Regions from separate parts of the Homo sapiens genome. Here all the other regions are reported to be linked to region 2. The links are microRNA targets in miRTarBase. Many come from high-throughput screens and were not tested one by one. Region 2 holds a microRNA gene; each other region holds the end of a gene's coding sequence. Distances are between the middles of the regions.

Evidence for each region. Region 2 holds the annotated microRNA hsa-miR-455-3p (GCAGUCCAUGGGCAUAUACAC, at 2,977-2,997, opposite strand). A microRNA usually pairs through its seed, bases 2 to 8, with sites in the 3' UTR of a target mRNA and lowers its output. Matches are read on the target gene's strand: a 7mer-m8 pairs with bases 2 to 8, a 7mer-A1 pairs with bases 2 to 7 and ends in A, and an 8mer does both.
Region 1: the mRNA of MTHFD1 is a reported target of hsa-miR-455-3p. The part of its 3' UTR that is shown has no 7-base or 8-base seed match.
Region 3: miRTarBase lists NASP as a target of hsa-miR-455-3p. Seed matches in the 3' UTR shown: 7mer-A1 at 3,020-3,026.
Region 4: the mRNA of USP37 is a reported target of hsa-miR-455-3p. Seed matches in the 3' UTR shown: 7mer-A1 at 3,426-3,432.
Region 5: the mRNA of DNTTIP2 is a reported target of hsa-miR-455-3p. The part of its 3' UTR that is shown has no 7-base or 8-base seed match.
Region 6: the mRNA of SCAI is a reported target of hsa-miR-455-3p. Seed matches in the 3' UTR shown: 8mer at 433-440.

What each region holds. Positions count from the first base shown.
Region 1 is chr14:64,457,753-64,461,841 of GRCh38, reverse strand. MTHFD1 (methylenetetrahydrofolate dehydrogenase, cyclohydrolase and formyltetrahydrofolate synthetase 1) reads right to left here. Exons shown (of 28, transcript NM_005956.4): 27 at 3,535-3,628; 28 at 1,817-2,083. The coding sequence ends at 3,539. It also overlaps a transcript of ZBTB25 not described here. Among named protein-coding and RNA genes, the nearest start is that of AKAP5, 5.7 kb to the left of the region's middle.
Region 2 is chr9:114,208,395-114,212,483 of GRCh38, reverse strand. MIR455 (microRNA 455) reads right to left here and starts at 3,050; the gene lies at 2,955-3,050. It overlaps COL27A1 (collagen type XXVII alpha 1 chain), which reads right to left. Exons shown (of 61, transcript NM_032888.4): 11 at 2,756-2,809; 12 at 1,458-1,502.
Region 3 is chr1:45,617,675-45,621,760 of GRCh38, reverse strand. NASP (nuclear autoantigenic sperm protein) reads right to left here. Exons shown (of 15, transcript NM_002482.4): 15 at 2,868-3,700. The coding sequence ends at 3,620. It overlaps CCDC17 (coiled-coil domain containing 17), which reads left to right. Exons shown (of 13, transcript NM_001114938.3): 9 at 26-123; 10 at 277-480; 11 at 648-858; 12 at 928-1,038; 13 at 1,328-1,717. The coding sequence ends at 1,486. Among named protein-coding and RNA genes, the nearest start is that of CCDC17, 4.3 kb to the left of the region's middle.
Region 4 is chr2:218,451,623-218,455,711 of GRCh38, reverse strand. It overlaps USP37 (ubiquitin specific peptidase 37), which reads left to right. Exons shown (of 26, transcript NM_020935.3): 25 at 1-132; 26 at 695-4,089. The coding sequence ends at 782. VIL1 (villin 1) reads right to left here. Exons shown (of 20, transcript NM_007127.3): 20 at 2,417-4,089. Among named protein-coding and RNA genes, the nearest start is that of VIL1, 35 kb to the right of the region's middle.
Region 5 is chr1:93,866,433-93,870,521 of GRCh38, reverse strand. It overlaps DNTTIP2 (deoxynucleotidyltransferase terminal interacting protein 2), which reads left to right. Exons shown (of 7, transcript NM_014597.5): 7 at 578-4,089. The coding sequence ends at 671. Among named protein-coding and RNA genes, the nearest start is that of DNTTIP2, 11 kb to the left of the region's middle.
Region 6 is chr9:124,949,509-124,953,597 of GRCh38, forward strand. It overlaps SCAI (suppressor of cancer cell invasion), which reads right to left. Exons shown (of 18, transcript NM_001144877.3): 18 at 1-3,445. The coding sequence ends at 3,299. Among named protein-coding and RNA genes, the nearest start is that of GOLGA1, 10 kb to the left of the region's middle. RefSeq lists an enhancer at 876-925.

The sequences.
Region 1 (4,089 bases), not on the chromosome of region 2:
GAGGATCACTTGAGGCCAGGAGTTTGAGACCAGCCTGGCCAACATGGCAAAACCCCATCTATACTGAAAATACAAAAAATTAGCCAGGCATGGTGGTGCGAACCTGTAATCCCAGCTACTCGGGAGGCTGAGGTGGGAGAATCGCTTGAACCCGGGAGGCAGAGGTTGCAGTGAGCTGAGATCACGTCACTACACTGCAGCCTGGGCAAAAGAGCACGACTCTTGTCCCAACCCCCCTACCCCCCCTGCCAAAAAAAAAAAAAAAAAAGGAAAAAAAAAGTACCAGAAGCAATTAACTCTGCAAACAGGGCCTGGAGGATGCTGTGCAACAGGAACTGACAAGTGCTTACAATGTGCCAGGCCCTGTACAAAGCATCTTAGATGATGTGTTTGAGTAATTCCAGAACCGCCCTCACGAGGTAGGTACCAACAGTGCTCCTATTTCCATGGTGAGGATGTGGAGGCAGGGAGGTGGGTGAGGCTCTCTGCCATAGAGCTGGGGCTCTGCACTGTGACCCCTTTGCCATATGCCTCTCAAGGCAGCGCTATCATTTCTGTGGACTGTAAAATTGACTGTATTACAACATTGACATGGACCTAGGGAATTAAAAATAATAAAACCAAGGTCACTGGGAAAAATACTGCTTTGCCAACATCAGCAGTGTTTAGCACTGGCGCCAGTGGGATGCAGCATCCTCTGGAAGGATCCAGTGGAGGGAGACAAGGGGAAAAAGGGAAGGAAACAAATGGGAGAGGAAGAACAGAGATAGAAGATAAAGAACAAGAAGAGAAGGAAAAATATTTGATTTATTTTTTTAGACAGAGTCTAGCTCTGTCTCCCAGGCTGGAGTGCAGCAGCATGATCCTGGCTCACTGCAACCTCTGCCTCCTGGGTTCAAGCAATTCTCGTACCTCAGCCTCCCAAGTACCTGGGGTTATAGGTGCCTGCCACCACACCCAGCTAATTTTTGTATTTTTGGTAGAAACAGGGTTTTACCATGTTGGCCAAGCTGGTCTTGAACCCCAGACCTCAAGTGATCCGCCCACCTCGGCCTCCCAAAGTGCTGGGATTACAGGCATGAGCCACCTCCACGCCCAGCCAGAAGAGGAGGAAAAAAAATATTAGGTTGGTGCAAAAGTAATTGTGGTTTTTACCAACCTAATGTTTTAGGAAAAAGAAAGTCTGGGCCAGGTATGGTGGCTCATGCCTATAATCCCAGCTACTTGGGAGGCTGAGGCAGGAGAATCACTTGAACCCAGGAGACGGAGGTTGCAGTGAGCTGAGATCGCGCCACTGCACTCCAGCCTGGGCGACAGAGACACTGTCTCAAAAAAATAAAAATAAAAATAAAAAGTCTGTAGGGAAGGGTGGAGCCCAGGCATTTAGAAGAAACTCAATGAATACTTGCTGCACCAACAGAATAGAGGCTCACCTAAGGCTAATGCTGCATGACCATCCTTCTTGAGCACTCTAAACATAGACAGTGCTAAAGCTGTGACAGAAATGGGAATTCCAAGGAAGTTCAGGCAAAAACTTGTATAAGCAATACTTCCTCAGGGTAGAAAAACAAAATTCAACAATATAGAAAGGTATAAGATTAAAAGGTAAGTCATCAACTTCCAACCCAACCCTCTCAGGAGGTCCCCTGAATTATGTGTCCTCTCAGAAATACACAAGCATGCATACATTTCCCTCTAAACACAACAGTATCATAAAGGGCACACTGCAACTTGCATCTTCAGCCCAAGGGTCTGCCTGACAAATGAGCTCACAAAGGATGGCAGAGACCTGTGGCACAGTCTGTTAAGGCTGTAATTCATATTGCAACACCAAGATGGCAAACTTGTTTCCTTTTATTCTGTGGAACGTCACTAAAGTAAACAGACATGCATGATTTATGTTAATTTATACATGATGAGAATTAAGGCTGAAAATGACTTCTGGGGAAACTCCTACTATTAGTTTCAGATCTTCTGGGCAGGGGCTGACTTCTCTTGGCTTACTTATACTTCCTAACTCCCAGTGGGCCTGAATAGACACTGGCCAGACTTTCAAAGTAGCTTCTTGAAGATGGATGGTGATCTGGAAGGAAAAACAAGAAATAAATGTTTTCTCTAAGCAAGCACTGAAATGTTTCCTGTTCCTTCCATACTGCACCATTACCCACTCACATTGCCAAAGCTGTTAACATTTACATCCTTTCCTGCCACCAGCTCTTCTAGGGCGTGTCCATAAATGGACTTGAAAATGATGCATGGTATTTCCATAGTACTGTGTGAATACTGTTCAAGACCAGACCAAGCCGTGAGCCATGACTGCATTTCGAGTATCACACATACCCTCTCAAAGAATAGTGTTCTAGCATCAAACTACAGTTTGCTTCTACTTGGACCTTAACTTTCTCAAATAATGCAAGAGCTTTTGTTTTATACTATGACCCTTTGATATCCTTGTCTTTTCTAGCTTTTTCTAGTTTTTCTCAGGTGCTCCCCCAACCTGTTCCACACAGGATTTGTAACTTCAGGTCATTTGCATGGTTATCAGAATGCCCCTTCGCTAATGTCCAAATGAGGGTTCAGTTTCCCAAAACTCACGTCTTCCTTTTTTCTTGGTTAATTCCTCATTTTGCTAAGTACATTGCTAAATAACTTCTTAGGAAGAGATGTGGGGTGGCAAACCCTTGCACGTCTGAAAATATCCAGATAGATTCGGCTAGGTGTGAGCACATGTTGAAAGTCATCTTCCCTGTGACCTTACAGGACACTCCTCCATTGTCTAAAAGCTTCTTATTGCCAGTAAGACGGGCGTTAAGTCTAGTTCTCATTCTTTTCATAGGCAAGCCACTTTTTTCGTCTCTGGAGAAAGATGTTAGGATTTTCATGTTTGATATTTTTGCAGTTTCAACAGGATGTGTCTAGGGATATAAGTGCACACTGCAACTTGCTGCTTCAGCCCCAAGGGTCTGCCTAAGGAGAGACACGTCCTGTTGAAATTTCAAAAATATCAAACAATGCAATGTCACTCATTGCAGTCGGTACTCAGGGCCCTTTCACCTAAGGCCCTAAGAACTGCCAGATTGGTCCTGTTTCCTTCTCTTTTCTATTATACTTCCTAAGACATTTGCTAATTCTTGCCTTCTAACTACCTATTCAGAGTATACAGACCGTCAGCTGTTCCTGACCTGCAATGTGTCATCAACTCTGAACCCCAAGCCTCCTGGGGCTTCAGCAGAGGGAGTCTAACCTCTCCTGTAGTTTCCTCTGTAGTTTATTGGACAGCAGTTTTCTCCCCTACACTGTCAACCTGTGACAAGCCATGCTGCGCTTCTTCCAAAAATGTGTTGAAATATAAATATTTCAATTCATTGGTTATTGCCAACTCTCATTACTATCCCCTCTCCCCTCAGGGAAGTCTGAAAAGAAATGTTTTGAAAGCATTAGAATGTGAATTTTTATAGCGTCAGTTTGAGCCCTATAATTCATAAATAAGCTACATGAGGAAAAAAGCCAAATTATTACCCAGTAACAACTTACCTGTTTAGAATAATCCATTCACCTGTTCTGTTTCAGGGTCCAAATCAATATCATAAAAACAGGGCCGGGTGGGGAGTCCAGGCATTGTGCTCATCTAGGATGTAAAAAAGCATTACAAATAAACTAATGCTGGGCACAGTGGCTCACGCCTATAATCCCAGGCTGAGGTGGAGAGGATCACTTGAGGCCAGGAGTTCTAAACCACCCTGGGCAACATAGTGAGACCCCCATCTCTACAGGAAATAAAAAATTAGCTGGATATGATGGCATGTGCCTGTAGTTCCAGCTACTTGGGATGCTAAGGCAGGAGGATTGCTTGAGGCTAGGAGGTTGAGGCCACAGTGAGCCATGATCATCCGATTGCCTGGGCGACAGAGCAAGGCCATGTCTAAAATAAACGTAAAGTCATCTTTACTTTCACTTTTCCTTCAGAAAGAAAGCCCAAGGCATAAAGATAGAACATCATTTTATAGTTGTCAATAAAGTGGGTACTCTTGTTACATATTAAAAATCAAGTCACTGATCCTGTTAAAAAACTCAGAAACTGATCCCTGC
Region 2 (4,089 bases):
CCATTTCCCCATTCAGTGATTGGGTATCTGTCTGTCTGCCCCAAGAGAGTGGGAACTTTGTCTTATCCACTGCTCTGCCAGAACAAAGCAAAATGCTTGGCCCATAGCAGGCATTCAACAGATATTCATGGGATGAACAGATAATCACTGGATGAACAAATCTCCTTGCCTGAGGTCATGCTGGCTTGAGGGACAACCCCATGTGCCAGCCCAGCCCTCTCAGACTCCAGGTCCTTGCCCTGAAGCTGGGAGCATCAGGTGCTGCTCCTTGCCCAGGTCTAGGTGTCAGGTGTTGGACCTTAGAGAAGACTGCCTGTTCGGGCCACAGAGGGGTCTAGGTTGGGGGTGGAGGGACCTCCTCTGTCAGCTCTTTGAGGCTTTTTTCTTTTCTTTGTTTTTCCTCTTTGGCCCCCAGAGGGCCCAGGTTAAACGCTCCAACAGCTAACATGCCCATCAGTGGCAGAAGCACGGAGAGGCCCCTCTGAGCACTCTCGAATGCTCCAGGCCTCCTCTTCATACTCCCTTCCTCACCAACCACCAGCGATGGGAGGCCCAGACTTGGTCTGACCATGGTTCCAAGTCAAGGAGTCAACCTGCAGGGCAGTGGCAGAGGGACCCTGGTATCTCATTCTGCCTCTCAGAGCCTCAGTTTCCCGCTTCTCAATAATTGGAATGAATGATCTTCCTTCCAGGCGAAGAGTCTAGGGAACCTATTTTTATAATATGACTGCCAACTAGGGACCCTGAGAGGCTGCCTCAAGCAGCCACTGAGATCAAAGACACCGGGAACAAACCAACTGAGTTCCAATCCTGGCTGCATTGTTTACTCATCGTGCAAGTGACTTAATCTCTCCGTGCCTTGGCTCTTTCTCCATGTTCTGCACATGTCCAAACAAAGGGAAAAACAATTTCCTCCCATGATGGGGAGCCATAGAGAAAGCTGGTGAATTGGGGGTCACCGCTGAGCCCCTCTTTCGGTCATGCCTGCTGTGGGCACTGCCCATAAACCCCATTGTCCTCTGGCTTTGCGTGTGCATGAGCAAACTGGACAGAGCCGGATGACACCAAGACGATGTGGAGACTGAGTGTTCCCTGAGATGGGAGCAGAGTCACCTGGTCTAGCCAAGGTCCCCCGGTCACAGCAGACCCACAGACACAAATACCTTAGACAGAAGCCCCCAGACACAGAACTGCACTGGAGAGCCACTGATGCCCACAGGGAGACAGGAGCTACCCCAGAGGGGTCCAGAGCCCATGGAAGCCCCAGCCCCAGCCAGGCCCCAGTCACGCCGTGTGCCAGCAGCAGGTCCTGTGGCCAGACAACCCCACATGCGGCCCCCACACTCAAAGCAGGGGGAGAAGCAGAAGATGCCAGGCAGCAGGTGGCCAGGGCAGCGTGGCCGTGGGAGGTGGGGTTCCCCGCTAGAGTCTGCGTAATAGACACGGAAAATCTTTACCGGCATACCCATCTTGCCCCTCTTGCCAGGAACGCCAGGCAGGCCCTGCAGGGGAGAGACAGGGGAGAGGTCAGGGCAGGATGCCAGCAGGGACAGCCAGGCTTGCCCCAAACCAGCCCAGAGCCACCCACGGCAGGAAGTCACAGAGGGCCTGGAATGTGTGCCACTTGCGTGGCGGCCCCAGTGACATGCACATCAGACGGATGGCAGGGTCGGGGTCTGTGGTGACCTAAGAGACAGAGAAATGCCAGTTCCTGTAATCAGCAGGTGCTTCATAAATGCTCAGGCTCCAGCTGTCCTAAGGTTCTCTATACCCAGCTTATGGAGGTTACAAGTGAGTTCCCATAGATACGGGCTCAGGTTGGGAGGGGGCGGGGAGGAAGATCCCGAGGCCACCACCCCAGGGGCTTCTAATGGACCTCCAGGCTGGGCCAGGGGTCTGTGAGAAGCTCCCACACCATCTTTTGGACTCCTCTGACTTAGATACTTGGTCTGGAAGGACAGGGTGTCTTAGGAAATCTTAGCACCCACTGCCCACCACCAAACCAGTCCCACCACCTTCCCCAGACAGCCGCTCCCCCTGGCTGCTGGAACTCCTGCCACCTGCTCTTGCTGTCCCCACCCCCAACCAACACATTTTACTCAAGTAAACCAACTGATCTGTCTAAAAGAGGAATCAGCAGATGGTTTCTGGAAAGGGGCAGATAGTGAATATCTTTGGCTCTGTGGGCCATACGGTCTCTGTCACACCTACTCAACTCTGCCATTGTAGTGAGAAAGCGGCATTGACAATATGTAACCAAATGAGCAAGGCTGAGTTCAATAAAACTGTTTGCAAAAACAGACAACTGGCTGGATTTGGCCCATGGGCCACCGTTTGCAGACCCCTGATCTATATTATAAAGTGGGCCCGGTGTTCATTGGTTGCAAGTCCTCAAGAGGCTCCGCATACCCTCAGAACAGAGTTCCTTTTCTAACCTTAGTCCTGGGCACCTAAGACATTGCCCCAGGGTCCTCTCCAGCCTCAACTCCCACCACTCTCACCCTCTCACGCAGCACTTTGGCAGTGTTGAGTGTTAAACTCGCCAAGTTACCGTAAATCCCTGACTTCGCACATGCTGTTCCCTATGCCTGGAATGCATCTGCCTTGACTTGTCCCCTTATCAGACTCCTACTCGACTCAAGTGCACCTCCTCCAGGAGGAATTCCTTGACTTCCCCAGGCTGGTGCCTGGCAGGTTCTGCTCTGTTTGGGCAGGGGTGGCTGTGGATGGTGAATAACCAAAGAAGCAAACTTACTCGTTCTCCATCAGACCCTGGCAGGCCGAAGAGCCCTGGGAGCCCAATGTAGCCCTAGGAAAGAGAAGAAAGGGGGTCAGAGCGGTCAAGCAGTGAGGTGTGGCTGGCCCAACCTGCCGCAGCCCACCCACCACTGCCATCCCACATCCCGGCTCCTCCTCTTCCTCCCTGGTGGCAGTGGCAGCTCCGGTGGCTCCTCGATGACATAGGCCTTGAGGCAAGTGTATATGCCCATGGACTGCATGGTGCTGGCTTCCACGATGTAGTCCAAAGGCACATACCCTCACGCCAGGGAAGGGCGCAGGCGCTCGCCGGCAGGAGGCCCGCCCCACGCCAGGGCTCCAGGACCTGCAGAAGGAAGCTCGCGGCTGGGTTAGATGCTAGCACGGCACCAAGCCCTGCCCACCCCCAGGGATGCTGGTAGGTGCCCGTGGCTCCTGCCATGGCTCCTCCTAGGCCTTCAAGGTCCTGGATGTAGGGCTTACATCCACCTCTGGCCGCCTGAGTGCTGGCATTAACTAACAGCGGCTGCGAACCCGGAGTGCCAACATTGTGCCAGGCACATGCATGCTACCACATTAGACTCTCACAAGGACCCCCCAGATTGTCACCACCCACACTGGACAGACAAAGAAACTGAGGCTCTGTAGATAAAGCAACACGACTAGTCAGTAGTGGAGCTGTGAATTCTCTTCGGGAATTCCTAATCAGTTCAAGGGTCACCCAGGGCCAGCTGACTCCACAGCTGGGGCTCGTCACCATTCTGGGGCTCTTCCCTAGGATGCATCTCATTTCCTCCCTCCCAGCCTTTCCTCACTCTGTCCCCTCCACCAGGCATGTCCTTCCCATCCCTCATGACTTCTGAGCCAAATCCTTCAAAGCCCAGCTCTCATAAGCGCTCTCCTTGGGCAAGCATCCCTGATACCCCAAGCCGGAAGCAATCTCTCCCCCCCATCCCCAGTGCCATTTTTGCACCTCGGTAGCATCCTTCTCCACTTTCTCCCTTGTATCTTCATTATTTGTGTTCATGCTTCACGTCCTCATTAGCCTGGGAACTTCTAAAGGGCAGTAACCTCGCCCGGGGCTTCTACCACTATCTGCGTGCCACTCTTGGTGGAATGATTTAATAATAACTCTAACAAAAGCTAATGTTTATTGAGCACGAATGATAGGCCAGGCCTGCTGCCAGTGCTTTGCATATATTAAAGCATTTATTCCATCCTTATCACACCCCGAGGAAGTATTATATTTTATTATTTTTTTATTTATATATATTTTTTGAGACGGAGTCTTGCTCTGTCATCCAGGCTGGAGTGCAGTGGTGCGATCGTGGC
Region 3 (4,086 bases), not on the chromosome of region 2:
GAGGAGTCAGCTCTCTTCCCCACAGCCACAGCTTCCTGGAACAATGACCAGAAACCTGGGCCTGGACTCACACTTCCTCCTGCCCACATCGGACATGCTGGGCCCTGCACCCTATGATCCTGGGTGAGGCCCGTGCCACCTTCGACAGCCTCTGTGACTTGGCCAGCACTGCTGGTTAAGGGAGCCCACTAGGACCAGATAGGGTTAGGGACCTGCCTGAGAGGAGGGAGGTTGAAAGGAGTTGGGTATTTCTGTGCTAAGACTTGTGTTCCCCAGGGCTGGCCTGGTCATTTTCTATGATTTCCTGCGGGGCCTTGAGGCTTCCTGGATTTGGGTGCAACTAAGGACTGGCTTGGCACGCGATGGACGGGATACAGGAAGGACCACAGCGTTGCCCCCAGCCCTTTGCCTGCCCCCACCTCCTGCTCCCGGGCCCATGGGCAACTGTGCCATCCTTGCCAGCAGGCAGCCTGTGCCCAGGTCAGTAGGTGGGGATCATGACTCTGGTACTCTGCCACAGTTGAGGCTTATCCACCATTCTGCTAAGTTTTCTCATCTGTATACAGAGGCCGCTGGCTCTAAAGGGCTAAGTCCTAGAAAGGGACTGTAGCTCTGGCTTCCGACACTGCTTTTTGGTTATTCTACAGACTACCACCCTCATCATCAGTATCTTTGGTCTGTGAGCTGCAGGTCTGGCAGGGGCTAGCATGGGCTAGGGCACCACAGCCAAAGGCTTGGGTCTCACTTGGACTATTTGACCAAGATCAGCGGGTGCTAAGTGGCCGCTGGCGCCTCCCACTTCGGGCCCTTCCTCTGGACCCCAGCCTTAGCCTTGGGCAGCTGAATGGGATTCCTCAGGTGAGTGTGGTGCGCAGGGATTGGGCATACAGCAAAGTACAAGTGCAATACCATTTCATCTCTCCCCAGGCAGGTCAGGCTGAGCTCTTTCTGCGGCTGGTGAATGCAAGAGATGCAGCTGTACAGACACTGGCAGAGATCAATCCAGCAAGTGTCCATGAGTACCAGTACCCACCTCCGGTGAGGGCCCAGCTGCAGCTAGGGACACCACAGCTACACATACCGGTGTGGCTGGTATGGCTAACGGCCAGCCTTTATTGACCACTGTGTGCCAGTCATTACCAATGCTTTCTTGTTTGATCCTCACATCTCTATGAAGTCCTACTATGTAACAGATAAGGAAATCAAAGCAGGAGCAGGTTAACTTGGTTCACAGTAAGTGAGACTCTAAGGAAGCCTAACTAACTCCAAAACCTGTGTGCTTAACCTTTACATTTTTGCTCAAAACCTGCCTTCTCCTGTTCCACAGGTGTCCAGCACATCTTCACTGGAAGCCAGCTTCCTCACCCCCGCAGTTGGCTTTGCTGATCCCCCACCTCGTACAGAAGAGCCCCTCAGTGGAGTCAAGGATAGAGATGAGGGTTTGGGCCCTCACCACAGTTCTGACTTGCCCCCAGTGAGTTTCTGAACCCAAGTGAATGTGGAGATGAGCATCTGAACATGCACAGGACTGGGGCCTATTTCCAGACCTACAGGTTTACTACTCCATGTTCTGACATTGGGTCTAGAAGCATCTAGCAGTTGAGTACAGAAAACCAGTTCCAACCACAGCTTTACCACCTCCCGTTAAGTCCTTAACTTTTCTGTACCTCTTCTGTTTTTGTAAAACAGATTAAGGATTAAATGAGTTTGTCAGGTATTTGTGATATTGTCTGGCACTTATGAAGTTCTCCGAAAGGTGACTAGGGGGCATTAATTCCCACTAAAGCAACTTTAAATTCCCACTAGTTCCCACTGCTTTTTTTGGTAAAGCCAGTTTTATTGCCAAACTTAAATCCGTTTCCTCAGTATTTCTGCCAGGAAACCTTTCAGGTTCTCAATGTACCCATAAACAGGAAGCTCCTGAGGCCTTATGTACTTTGATTCTGGGATAGGTCCCCAGCCCAAGGTTGTTCCCCCAACCAGGGGTCACATGTGAGATCTAGCTTAGATACTGTGCCTAGCCCTAGATCCCAGTGCCAACCAGAGAAGGTCAAGTGCCTGGGAGTAAACTACATCGTGACTGTCCTGACCAAGAAAAGGGGGCAAAGCGCCTCAGGACCTGGAACATATACTGCAAGGGCAACATCAGGAAGAAACTCCACAGCCAGGATAAGCCAGAGATCCTGCAACCATGAGTTACTGTGACCAGCCCAGAAAAACTTACTTAGTCTGAAAAATTGGGTTGAATTTAGGGGCCGGCCATCGCTTCCTCTGCCTCCAGTGCAACAAAAGCAGCCCTATGGGTGTCATGACTACTAAATTGAGGTGGTGATATAGGGCAGGCATTGTTTGGAATTCAGATCCTAACTGGTACTTAGAGTCAGGTCAGAGGCAGTTCAGTCTCAAGTGAGCCCTGACCCCTAGACACCAGTGAGAGCACAACAGGTCTAACATTAATACTAGTGCCCTCACCACCAGCATCCTTGGACTGGTGGGCTCGTTTCTGCCTTTGAAACCCTCTATCGCACACAGAAATGCTCCAGGCAGTCAGGTGAAGTGGCTCACGCCTGTAATCCTAACACTTCCTGAGGCCAAAGTGGGCAGATCACTTTAGGTCAGGAGTTCGAGACCAGCCTGGCCAACATGGTGAAACCTCGTCTCCACCAAAAATACAAAAATTAGCCTGTAGTGCTGGCTACTTGGGAGCCTCCTGAGGCAGGATAATCTCTTGAACCCAGGAGACAGAGGTTGCAGTGAGCCGAGATCACGCCACTGCACTCCAGCCTGGGCGACAAGAGCAAGATCCCATCTCAAAAAAGCAGCCTAAGACCCCACTTAAGATCTTTAAACATAATTCCAGACAAGGAGATTTTTAGCATCTTTATTTGAGAAGTCAATTCTGCAGATGGGTAACAATTCCAAGTGTTGATATATCTCAACCTTTCTATACAGAAAATAACAAAACTCAACCAGCCAGCCTCCCCACATATGCTTCCAACCACATCTGGAGTGTCCACCATCAGTCCCCTTGGCTACTTTCAAACCAGAGCTCAAATGCAGACCGTTTTCCTTAGGAATCATTCCCCTGACCCAGGTTTTCAGAGTTCTTTTTCCAGGACAGAATTATAGCCCCAGGTGAAGACTAGGTGGATATAGGACAAGAACCATCCTAGGCCTGGCTCACAGCCAAAGTCCATCATCCATTTTCAGCACTGAAGAGCAAGATCTTCACCAATTCTTGTTTTTGTAGCCCCCATCCAGGGACAGCACCACTGAAAGTTTGCAAGACAGCTGGGTTCAGTGAAGTGTTTGAAAACAGAATATAGCACCATTGGAAAACAAAGGCCTACAGCCACACTTGATCACCTCCACGTTAGACAGATAGGAATTAGGATCAGGAACACAGATCAGTACAGAAGGCCAGAACAAAACCTTTGGCTAATATATAAAACCAGCAGTGCTCCAAGGCAGATTCAGCCAATAATTAAGAAAAAAACCATCAAAGCCTCAACCTTTGCTTACAATCTTTATTGAAGTTATACAAAAAGAATCCTCCAAAAGTGAAAAAATACATTATATACAAAAACACTTTCCCTTGGGAGGAGGGCTGTGCCCCCTCTTAACATGCAGTGCTTTCAACTGTAGCTCCAGCCTCCACTGTCCCCTCCACTGCTGCCCGGCTTTCAGCCTGATTCTCAGCCTGGAAGACAAACAGAACCTGGGCATGAGTGAGCCTAGTTTAAGCCATTCTGTCTTATATAACTGAGGCCTCAGTCATAGGAAGCATATACAAGTCACCCAAACTCTGCTTTGCTCCCTATATTAAGAGGGCAGTGACCACAAAGTATTTCTTGAATACTCTGTGATAATGGGGCTGACAGAGCCAATAATCATCACGTGGAAGGAAGTGACCTAATGGTTTTGCCCATCAAGTGCCTTCTCATATATTCATCGAGGGACCTATAATATACAGGTTCCATTTGTCAGTGAGTCATCCTATACTCCCATAACCAAACTGTTTTCCTGCACAAGTACCGTTTTCTGTGAGGACTGCACTCAACAATCGTTAGCAGGCTCAAGGTGGGG
Region 4 (4,089 bases), not on the chromosome of region 2:
CATTAGTGATGTATATGACATTAAGAAGCAAGCGTGGTTTACTTACAATGACCTGGAGGTATCAAAAATCCAAGAGGCTGCCGTGCAGAGTGATCGAGATCGGAGTGGCTACATCTTCTTTTATATGCACAAGTAAGAAACTTTGCCAGATTCTAAATAATGAGTTAGAAATCACCGGAACTCTTTTTTTTTTTTTTTTTTCCTTTGAGGATAAAATGTTTCCATCAGTTGATTGGTTGAAAATTTTTGGTTTTTATCATCTTTGGTTAGGGTCTATCTCTTGATATTTCCTTGTAAGTCCAGAATATTTTCTCTCATAACTCAGCATTAATTGCTCATTACACAGTTGTATCTAGGTATGGAAGTTAAGACAGTTTGTTTTATGATAGAAGATGTCCTGTCATAAATAGTTTTGGTCATCCAGTTTTATCAGCTAGAAGATCTGATTTATATGGATGGGAATTACCTAGCATGTTCATTAAAGCTAACTGTTGTCAGTTCCCCTCTATTCTTAAAAATCAGCATTCAAAGGGTTAAGATCAAATGAGTGAGCTGCTTTTTAAATAAAATACAGGCATGAAATGGAATTGTGAAGGCCTTATCCATATCAATTTTATTTTACTTTTTCTCCTGCCTATTCTTTGGTTCTGCTTACTAAATTTCCAGTTTTATTTTTTGCTTGTTTTATCTTAAGGGAGATCTTTGATGAGCTGCTGGAAACAGAAAAGAACTCTCAGTCACTTAGCACGGAAGTGGGGAAGACTACCCGTCAGGCCTTGTGAGGAACAAACTCCTGGGTTGGCAGCATGCACTGCATATTTGTTACTGCTGCCCACCTCACCTTTCCTCTGCTGAAGGAGAATTTGGAATTCTACTTGATGCGGGAGCAACAAACAGCTCAGGGCCAAACCAAAAGACAAAAATTGGAGTAACGTAGAATGCTCCATGCTATTTTATGGAAACTTTGGTCTCACATCCGTAGCTGATTATCCTCTTTTTCTCCTATGAGTGGCACTTCTTTTGTCTTAGGAATACATGTTGTAAATATATATCTGTGTATGTGTGTATACACACACACAGACACACACACACACACACGGGATGAATGGAGCCTTAAAGAGTTAGGATGAGCCACCAGAATATGCCTGCTCAAAATTAATAGCACAGCAGTTTGGAGAAGAAATGAAGGTGTCAAAGAGTCCATTCACCTGAGAAATGTGTGAAGACATACTTATCAGTTGGCTTTTAGCTTTTATGTTCCTTGAGTAGTTTCACTCAAGTCTGTAACCTTTTGTGTTTCCTTATTAGTAAAATTCACTGGAAAGCCAGCTCTTCATGTTACACTAATGACAGTTTGTTCTCTTTGCAAGAGAGGGGCATTACTGTCACCTGACTTGAGGAGCTGTTTTGTTGTTGTTGTTGTCTGCAAATTTCATGAATTTGTGATGTCTTTGCTGTTTACATGCAGTCCCAAGAAATGGATTGTTGGTGCTTTGGAATATGTTACAGTCCCACATTTGATATTTCTTATATACTTTGTTTTCTCTAAGGAGATTTCTTCACACAGTATGTTCATCATATATCATCATCATTATTATGGTGGTAAAGATAGAATCTTTTTTCTTTTTTGTCATTCTGCCATGGAGCAGCATTACCCTAATGGATTGCAACCAAAACTTTAAACAAGTAGAAAGATAATATTTCTCCAATTGGGACTCCCCAGCAGGAATACTTAGGGATAAGGAAGAATGCTAGCATCTCTGTCTCTCAAACATAGGGAGGATAAGAAGAGTGTTCTTCTGGTAAAGCTAAAATTCTGGACCACTGAAGCTAAAAGCCCTATTGCAAGTATGAAATTAAGTACTTGAGCTGTAGGACAAACCTTGGGCATTTAACCATTTACTGTCTGGCTTTGCCCTTAAAATAGGGTTGCAATTAAAATGTGATTGGCTTAGGTAATCCCAAAAACTAACAAATAACAAAGGTGCATAATTTATTTATCTACTTTTTAGGTGCTCTGAGTTGAGGCAAAGTAGAGCGGCAACATTAAGTGCTATGCTAGTCACTTAGCTGACGTAACCAGCTTGGTTAAGCAGCTTATGAAACCATATAAAGAATTCTTTTGAGGATGGAATTCTGTCCACAAAATAATTTTGTGAGCCCAGATATCATTAGGATCACACAGAGTTAAATATAGAAAAATGAAACCATCATTATATTCTTTCGTGTTTTTTCTTTTATTATAAACAAGGGGATTATTCTTTAGTTCTCAGAGGTAGGGACAAAACCACATCAGGTTTTCAGAAGGAAAAAACATTTAAAAACCCACCATCACATGAGAGAATCACTTGAACCCAGGAGGCAGAGGTTGCAGTGAGCTGAGATCGCATCATTGCACTGCAGTCTGAGTGACAGAGTGAGACTCCATCTCATTAAAAAAAACGAAAACAAAAACAAAAAAAACACAAACCATCATCACAGAAGATGCAACATCTTTTCTGAAAGATTGCCTTAAGAGAGCTCCAGTCCTACTCTTGGAACTTGGATGTATTCTAATGTAGTAAACTATTCTAAGTTTTCATTCTTTGAATTATAAATGGCCTCAGCAGTTTTGCTCAACTACTGATAAATGCTTTGCCTCCTACCATCTACCTATATACCTTATTGTAATGAATGTTCCAAAATGGTAGAGTGGTAGAAAACGCCAGAGTAGTTTAGAGCAGAGGAAAATATTTGTTTTAAAACTAGCTTTAAAGTTTTGTTTCATTTCTACCAGGAGCCTCTTTGGTTTGGTTTGATTTTGCTTGGAAATAATTGGTTTTCTTATAAATGAGTGAAGCGGTGATAAAATTCTTTGGCTAGTTATTAATTCTTTTACGTGTCTTTGCATTTGAGAGGCACTGTTAAAAATTATTGGGAAAGATTTAAAGTGCAGGCTGCAATTAAAACATGGAGAAAAGTAGAAATAATGCCATAAGTCTAGATTGCCTCATGAAGCAGCCTCATTTGAATTGCTTTCATAGCTTTCATGTGTGTATGGTTTAGAAGTACACTTACCTCAGAAACCTGATTTGATCTTCATGTCTTGGGCAGGAGTTGTTGAAAATAGGTTATTGGAATATATAAGTTATCTCACTGCTCATGTACTTGCATGTTTGGGACTCAAATTTTACTTGATGTCTGTCCATTCTTGTGGCCCTATCAGCCTTCTCCTTCCTTTACTCCTTTAATCTACTTCTTTGACTACCAGTGGAGATTTCAGCTGGACTATGTTGATGGGGTTTGTTGTTGTTTTTGAGCTGGCTGTATATATTTTAAAATTATAAATAGATAATATATTATTTTTTGCACATTGTGATCAGTTTGCCCAGAATTGGGGATGGGGCAGTTAGCATGTTGGGGCCAGGAAGGGACAAGTTAGATAAGGACTGAGTGCTTCCGTTGCAGGCAGTTTGCACAATACCTAATTAACCTTCCTATTGAAAATACCAAATGTGTGGTTACATTACTTTAAATGACATTGAATTGGAACTTGATGGCAATTAGTTCTAGATACAACCTTTTGATCTTTGTTGGAATTTTAAGGGAAAAATGAACTAAACTTCATATTTGTTGATTTTAATCACCTAATAGTACTGAAGGTTGGAAAGTTGCATGTGGCTGGATGCTGTTAATTTCTTTAATAGCCATGACTATAATTTAAGCCTATGAGAAGATAGACTGTTTCGTAGGGATATATTCACATGTGTGTGCACACTCATGAGTTTTGTCTCAGCAGGATAGAATAAGCAAATCCATGAACTGGTCTTCTATTAATACTTTGATTCTAAAAATTATTTGTTTACTTGCTATGGTCTGTTCATTCTGGGCCTAACCTTAAAGGCTCAATAACAAATACAACAAATGTAAATATGTTTACATTTTAAGACATATGCAGTGGTTCTTACAGATCAGTTAATTAACTCCAGAAAGCAAATGTTAGACTACACATTTATTTTTCTCCTTGATCAAGTATAAAATTCTGAAACAGAGGCTTTAAAATTTAAAACCTCAGCAAAATAATCCATGAATTTACTGATTCTTCTGTAT
Region 5 (4,089 bases), not on the chromosome of region 2:
TAATGTCTGGCTTAACTAAAGACAGAGGCTCATACCTGCTTCTGCAGATAACATACATCACGTAGCCCCTGGAAAACACTACACTCATGAGAGAACGAGGGTGAAAAAAGCGATTAATGCCTTAGTATTCTTGAGAAAATAGTTTTTACCTAATGAATCCCTTGAAAGGGTCTACTCCACAGACCACACTTTGAAAACCATTGGTCGCTTCTAAGAAATATATATATCATACTGTGCATTTTCAGGATAAGTGTGACTTTTTGTTTTGCTTAGTCCTGATTTTTGTGTTTTTATCCCTCAAAAATGTTTAAAGCATTTGATACAGCCTGGTGGATGGATATAGTGCATATATAGATCATATATGGATATATGGATAGATAGATGGATATAGTGCATATAGTAGGAAAGTCTTCCTACTACAGTTGCCATTTTTTCTCCCTAGATTGCAAGCAAGTGCTATGAGGTCAGAGACTATACTTGTCTTGTCCACCACTCCATTCCCAACTTTTACCCTAAGGTTATATTAACTTCTAATGTCTGATATATCAAACATAAAGTTCTGATTTTTCTTTTTCAGATACAACCGAAGGAAGTACTCAGAGATCATGGCTGAAAAAGCAGCAAATGCAGCAGGAAAAAAGTTCCGAAAGAAGAAGAAATTTCGCAATTAAGATTTACCAAGCAAACTGCAACATTTTACATTGCTCCTTTATTTACTTATTAAAGACGTTTGGAAAACTAACACCATCATCTAAATTAATTTACCATAGACTGGCCCTGTTCATACAGGAATTTGTATTTGGAAAAAGTTGATTTGAGAATCGATTACATGCCCTTAGAAAATAGGGGTGTCTAAAAGACCCACCCTGGTGTAGACTCTTTATGGGAAAAAAGGAAAAAAAATCTCAACCATTTTAAGATAACTGATGGTTTGTAAAGTTTTCAATGCTTAGTTATTTAAAGAAAATTTAATTAAAAGATAGGAAGTATAAAGTTTGCTAACATGTTCAAAGAACTTTAAAAAATGATCAAAGATATATAAACATTATTGTAATTAATAGGTAGTTTTATGTGTGTATGTGTGTGTGTGTCTGTGTAGGGGACGGGAGATGGTAGAGAGGCAATGCCCTATAGTTAGCTATAAAATTCAGATCCAGAAAGTTGGGATACAAAGATATGAAGAATATGACCTAGAAAGCTTGGGCAGAGGAGCTGTTTTCCTTGCTTGGCAACTGAAACAGGGAGGAATAATTGGTTTTTATCTAGATTTAAGTGTTGTGGTCCAAGTAAAACAGGATTAAACTATAATTTAAGTTGGCCAGGGTTTCTTCGAAGTTAACCCAGCTTACCTCTTCTCCAGTGGTACAGTATGCACCCTGGCTAAGCTGGTTTCTGGCACCCAAGGAGTGTTGGTCATTTCTGTTGATACTTGGTGAGTTGTAGCTTCCTTTATGTTACTATTCACTTTACCTCTATTTTTCCAGCATACTGCTTCCTTGAGATATCAGCAAATATGAAATCTTTTTTTTTTTTAATAATAGTTTTGGGGTACATGTGTAGAACATGCAGGTTACATAGGTATACACGTGCCATGGTGGTTTGCTGCACCCATCAACCTATCTACATTAGGTATTTCTCCTAGTGCTATCCCTCCCCTAGTCCCCCACCCACAACAGGCCCCAGTGTGTGATGTTCCCCTCCCTGTGTCCATGTGTTCTCATTGTTTACCTCCCACTTACGAGTAAGAACATGCAGTGTTTGGTTTTCTGTTCTTGTGTTAGTTTTCTGTTCTTGCTGAGATGATTTCCAGCTTCAGCCATGTCCCTGCAAAGGACATGAACTCATGCTTTTTTATGGCCACATAGTATTCCATGGTGTATATGTGCCACATTTTCTTTATCCAGTCTATCATTCATGGGCATTTGGGTTGGTTCCAAGTCTTTTCTATTGTGAACAGTGCCACAGTAAACATACTTGTGTATGTGTCTTTATAGTAGAATGATTTATAATCCTTTGGGTATATACCCAGTAATGGGATTGCTGGGTCAAATGGTATTTCTGGTCCTAGATCCTTGCGGAATCACCACACTGTCTTCCACAATGGTTGAACTAGTTTACACTCCCACCAACAGTGTAAAAGTGTTCCTAGTTCTCCATATCCTCTCCAGCATCTGTTGTTTCCTGACTTTTTAATGATTGCCATTCTAACTGGCAATGAGATGGTATCTCATTGTGGTTTTGATTTGCATTTCTCTAATGAGCAGTGATAATGAGCGTTTTTTCATGTTTGTTGGCTGCATAAATGTCTTCTTTTGAGAAGTGTCTGTTCATATCCTTCACCCACTTTTTGATGGGGTTTTTTCTTGTAAATTTGTTTAAGTTCTTTGTAGATTCTGGATATTAGCCCTTTGTCAGATGGATAGATTACAGAAATTTTCTCCCATTCTGTAGATTGCCTGTGCACTCTGATAATAGTTTCTTTTGCTGTGCAGAAACTCTTTAGTTTAATTAGATCCCACTTGTCAATTTTGCCTTTTGTTGCCATTGCTTTTGGTGTTTTAGTCATGCAGTCTGCCCATACCTATGTCCAAAATCTCATATTTACTGCTTGGAGTCAAAAGCTAGTAATAGCAGAACTGACAATAACATTCATAGTTGGAGTTAGGGAAGCATCTATGTCTGTTCTCTTTTATTTTAAAAAAAAACTACTTTTGTTTCTGGAATACTATGTTTTGCCTTCTACTGGATAAAATAAGGACCCAGTATGAGAGAATTGTATCCTTTAGTGCTTCTGGCCTTCTACAAATACCTGGATATTTAAATAATGGATGAAGTTATGTTTTGCTTTTTAATAAGCAAGTCTTTTGAGAAACAGGTTTTACTGACTTTGGCCTGTGTCACTAAACTCAGTTCACCTACTGGAACTTTTTTTTTTTTTTTTGAGACGTCTCACTCCATCACCCAGGTTGGAGTGCAGTGGTGCCATCTCAGCTCACTGCAACCTCCGCCTCCCAAGTTCAAGCGATTATCATACCTCAGCCTGCCAAGTAGCTGGGACTACTGGGCATGCCATTATGCCCAGCTAACTTTTGTATTTTTAGTAGAGATGGGGTTTTGCCATCCTTACCTCAAGTGATCCACCCGCCTCGGCCTCCCAAAGTGCTGGGATTACAGGTGTGAGCCACCATGCCCAGCCAACTGGAACTATTTGAAGGCTTTATACCAGAAAAGTATAAAGAATCCAAAGGGCTGCCACAGTCAGGTGTGCTGGTGAAAGAGACCTTCAAGATACCCCTGAGAAGATCTTGAAAGATTTCGAAAAGAATGCTGTATTTATACACCATCTGGCTCCAAGATGCTTTTTTTTTTTTTTTTTTTGAGAGACGGACTCTCGCTCTGTCGCCCAGGCTGGAGTGTAGTGGCATGATCTTGGTTCACTGCAACCTCCGCCTCCCGGGTTCAAGCAATTCTGCCTCAGCCTCCCAAGTACCTGGGATTAACAGGCACCCACCACCACACCCGGCTAATTTTTGTATTTTTAGTAGAGACGGGGTTTCACCATGTTGGCCAGGCTGGTCTTGAACTTCTGACCTCAGGTGATCCACCGGCCTCAGCCTCCCAAAGTGCTGGGATTACAGGCAGGAGCCACCACGTCTGGCCCAAAATGTTCTTAAAACAAAGTAGATGCTGTAAGACTACAGTTGATAAAGTTGGGCTCTGGGCTAGGTTCTTAGCATCCAACACAATCAGTTCTGTGTTCAGTGTTCTGCTGTATGATAAACCAACTGCTCTAGAGAAACACCAATATTCCTCTTCTGAAACCTGGGAAAATGTCTTTTTTGGGTCCCATAACTAGATGTCACAAAAGGAGTGGGGAGTGGGGAGGCTATATAAAAAAGTTCAACAAAACCTTAGTAACTGGTATACATTAATAGGATCCCATTCTTAGAAACAGCAAGTTAAAGAAAATACCATAATGGGAAAAAAAAGTTAACATTTCTGAGAGATGTACCAGGTATTCAGTCTCTCAGGCAGTGACAACTTGTTCAGAATAATTACCTACAATAGATCCCAAACCATTGAAAAATG
Region 6 (4,089 bases), 11 Mb from region 2:
GGCTGGAGTGCAGTGGTGCAATCACAGCTCACTGCAGCCACAAACTCCTGGGCTCAAGTGACCCTCCCACCTCGGCCTCCCAGGTAGCTGGGACTAATAGGGTCATGCCACCATGCCCTGCTTGATCACTCTTTTAAACATTGTTCTTCTCTTAAGAAAACAAACAAAAGATTTACCTTACCATAATCTACACTTTTCCATCCTACTTAACATTTTCTAACATAAATTACTTATGTTTATTGCCTTACTCCTTCTACTAGAATGTAAGCTTCATGAACATGAGGATTTTTAAGTCTATTTTGTTTGCTTCCCCAATGCCCAGAAGAAAATCTGGAGTATAGTCTTTGTTTAATACGCATTTTTTTGAAGGCATCAATGAAACAATAACATTTTCCAGCACAGTTTTCCTCTCTTTGAAGATTCAAGATCACTTCAGTCCACTTTAGATTTTTAACTACCAGTAAGGAATTACACTATTAGCTTAAGGGGCAACATCATAAGGGTCAATGTTGTGATTTCTAAGACCCTCATTTTTAGACAAGCATGTTTCTAATCATAAAAGCTCTAATTTCCTCAGGAGAGTCTCTGTCTGTACTAGTTTCTAAAACAGCTAAGTGGGACCCAGATTTTCTTGAACAAAATCTAGGTAAATATGACTTACAAAAGAAAAGGTTGTGTACACTACAAACAGGGTAAATAGTTCTCTTGGTGGTTGGAGTGGGGAAATCAATATTTTTGGAACCAAGAGTCCAAATTACAGAATCAGAGTTGGAGAAGACCTGGGCCAACCTCTTCATTTTACAGATGAGAGTGCTAACAAGCAGAGACATGAAGACAGTTGTCAAAGGGCATAACGCTTAAGTTACCAGGAAAGCCAGGACTAGAACTTAGGTCTCCTAGTTCTCAGACCAGTGTTCTTTATGCTTAACGGGGGAGGATAAAGCTCAGAACAGTAAATACTATTTTAAACATTAGAGGACAGGAAACTCTGTGTTGGTAGGAGCATAACTGGCACAGGACTTAAGGGGAATTGAAACAAGAGGTCAGAAAACCGAAGATAGTCTATTGCTGTAGTTCAATGAACACTGTTACTAAAGGAAAGCTATGAAGTTTATTAAGATACTGAAAAAAAAGGAAAGCAGTCTTTACCTGAAAATGAAAACCCACTAGCAAAGGAAATCTTTCCAGGGTAACTTTTCCCAAGCTTTCTGAAATACTGTTTGAAAGAACAAACAAAAAAATTTTTAAAAAGTAAACAGGCCAGGTACAGTGGCTCACACCTGTAATCCTAGCACTTTGGGAGGTTGAGGCAGGAGGATCACTTGAGCCCAGGAGTTTGAGGCCAGCCTGCTCAACAAAGTGAGACCATGTCTCTACAAAAAATTAAAAAATAAAGAAAATTAGCCAGGCATGGTGGCGCATGCCTGTAGTCCCAGCTACTTGGGAGGCTGAGGTGAGAAGATTGCCTGAATCCAGGAATTTGAGGCTGCAGTGAGCCATGAATGTACCGCTGCACCCCAACCTGGGCAACAAAGCAAGACTCTGTCTCTTAAAAAAAAAAAAAAAAAAAAGTAAAATACTCCCCAAGTCCCCAAACCCCAAAAACAGTAACTTTGGACTTCAGGTTTGAAAAATCAGCAAATCAAAGCAGGAATGGGAATAACTTAGACCCAAATTAGTCTCTATGCCAGAAATGAAAACCAAGTTAAAAATAATAGCCAGGTGCGGTGGCTCACGCCTGTAATCCCAGCACTTTGGGAGGCTGAGGCAGGCAGATCACAAGGTCAGGAGTTTGAGACCAGCCTGACCAACATGGTGAAACCCCGTCTCTACTAAAAATACAAAAATTAGCCAGGCATGGTGGCGGGCACCTGTAATCCCAGCTACTCGGGAGGCTGAGGCAGGAAAATTGCTTGAACCTGGGAGGCGGAGGTTGCAGTGAGCCGAGATAGCCCCACTGCACTCCAACCTGGGCAACAAAAGCAAGACTCTGTTTCAAAAAAAATAAATAAATTTAGAGTATAATTTACCTAGGGCCATGGGAAAGAGATATCAAAAGCAATCAGCTCACTTCTCCTGGGACTGCCAGATGTGATCCTGTACAGAAAATTAGGTATAAGGCCTTCTCATTCATAGATTTCTGAAATTGAATGCTGCATAATCAAAAAGGAGGGAGGACTTCATAGCAAGTGACTGTGAAATTATAAAGGGAATGACAGGGAAGGAAAACACAAAAAAGAAAAATCTTTATAATATACACTGAGTCCTATTTAAGATAATAAAAATTTTGTGCATGAATATAAAATACTAAATACAGGGAATGTTAATAAATCTTATTTCCAAATTACCAATGCAAAATCAACTTACATTTTAGGTTTCATAACACCCAGTTACCCCTTACCAAAATTTAAAACATCTATGACTTTGAAGTCTCATAAATTTGAATGAGGCAAAAAATTAAAACTTTATGTCACAGACATCAATCCAGTCTTTAAATGTGATCTCATAAACCAAGAGTTTAAATAGAATTCCTATTGGAGACATTGTATTATGAAACCAATGACATGGTTTTTTGACTAAAATATTTCAAAGTTGTTTCCTTTTTCATTTCCAGCATTCACAGACTACAAAGAAAATATGCAAATAAATCTCATAATACTCATACATTCCAAGTAATATTACCACCTCAAGTCCTCAATCAAGATGTAGCTTTCAGATGCAATTCAATCCAATTTCTGAAATTATGACAGTATTGAAAGAAATTAAATGATTTCAAAAAACTGGCTTGATCATGTTTCAAAGGATCAAACATTTTTCTACCAGCTAAGTTGGAATGAGAAAAAATATATTATGGAGGGACTCTGTTCTTGATTTTCAGTAGTCCATGGTGGCTAGCTTCATCATTATGAACCATTACATATTTCCAAATCCAGACATTTAACTTAGGTCCAAGTATAAGAGTTGGATTTACCTCATTATACAAAAATAAATGATTTACTCTTCTCAGGGTGAGAATAGTGACTATTTGAGTGTAGGATTAGAAGTTGGAGGTAAATATCCATCCCTCAAAATCAAAAAATAAAAATTCCAAGGTTAAGATTTTAAAAGACCTGAAAGGTTGCATTTTAAAACAGTTACCCTAAAAGTGTGAACATTTTTTTGTTTGTTTTTAAAATGGTGGCCCTAAATTAAAAAATAAAAACTAAGTAACACCACTATGTGTCTTATCACGTTAGAAAACTGCACCATTTAAAATTTGTGGAAAATGAAAACTTGTTTCGACAACAGGGTTTTTGTTTTAATAGTCATCAATGGTATTCTCAAAGAACACGTTTCGAACATCCAGAATGGATGCTAATTCCAAAATGTGCTTCTGGAGATGAGGATTCTCCACTGTTTCATCCCTTGGCAGTTGTGGATATGATTCTGGATAATTTCGTGTTTCCTGGTAGGCAAAGAAGAGAAAAGTCAAGTTTTGTAGTCTAATGAAAGAAAATTATACACATTGATAACAGTGTCAAGGAGTAATATGTATTTTCACTTTTATACTGGAATGATTCTTATTAATATATTTGTTGAATATTGAATTGCTGATATTTAACCATTTTGACCTCTAAAAATGACAGTTTCAGATGAATCAATGTAATATATTCATTTAGTGAGTTATTCCACAAATGTTTACTGAGGCCTATTGTTGCTAGACACTATGCTCTGTATCACGTGGAAACCATATAATTCATGCTACTGGGGGGAAAATCCTAACACATATAGAATTTCAACAAGTATATGTTAAATAAATAAAAAGATATTGCTTTGGAAATTAAAATGAGGCTGGGGCAGCCGGGCACCATGGCTCACGCCTGTAATCCCAGCACTTTGGGAGGCCGAAGCGGGCAGATCATGAGGTCAGGAGTTTGAGACCAGCCTGGCCAACATGCTGAAACCCCATCTCTACTAAAATACAAAAATTAGCCGGGCATGGTGGTGGGCACCTGTAATCTCAGCTATTCAGGAGGCTGAGGCAGGAGAACTGCTTGAACCCGGGAGGCGGAGGTTGCAGTGAGTTGAGATCACGCCATTGCACTCCAG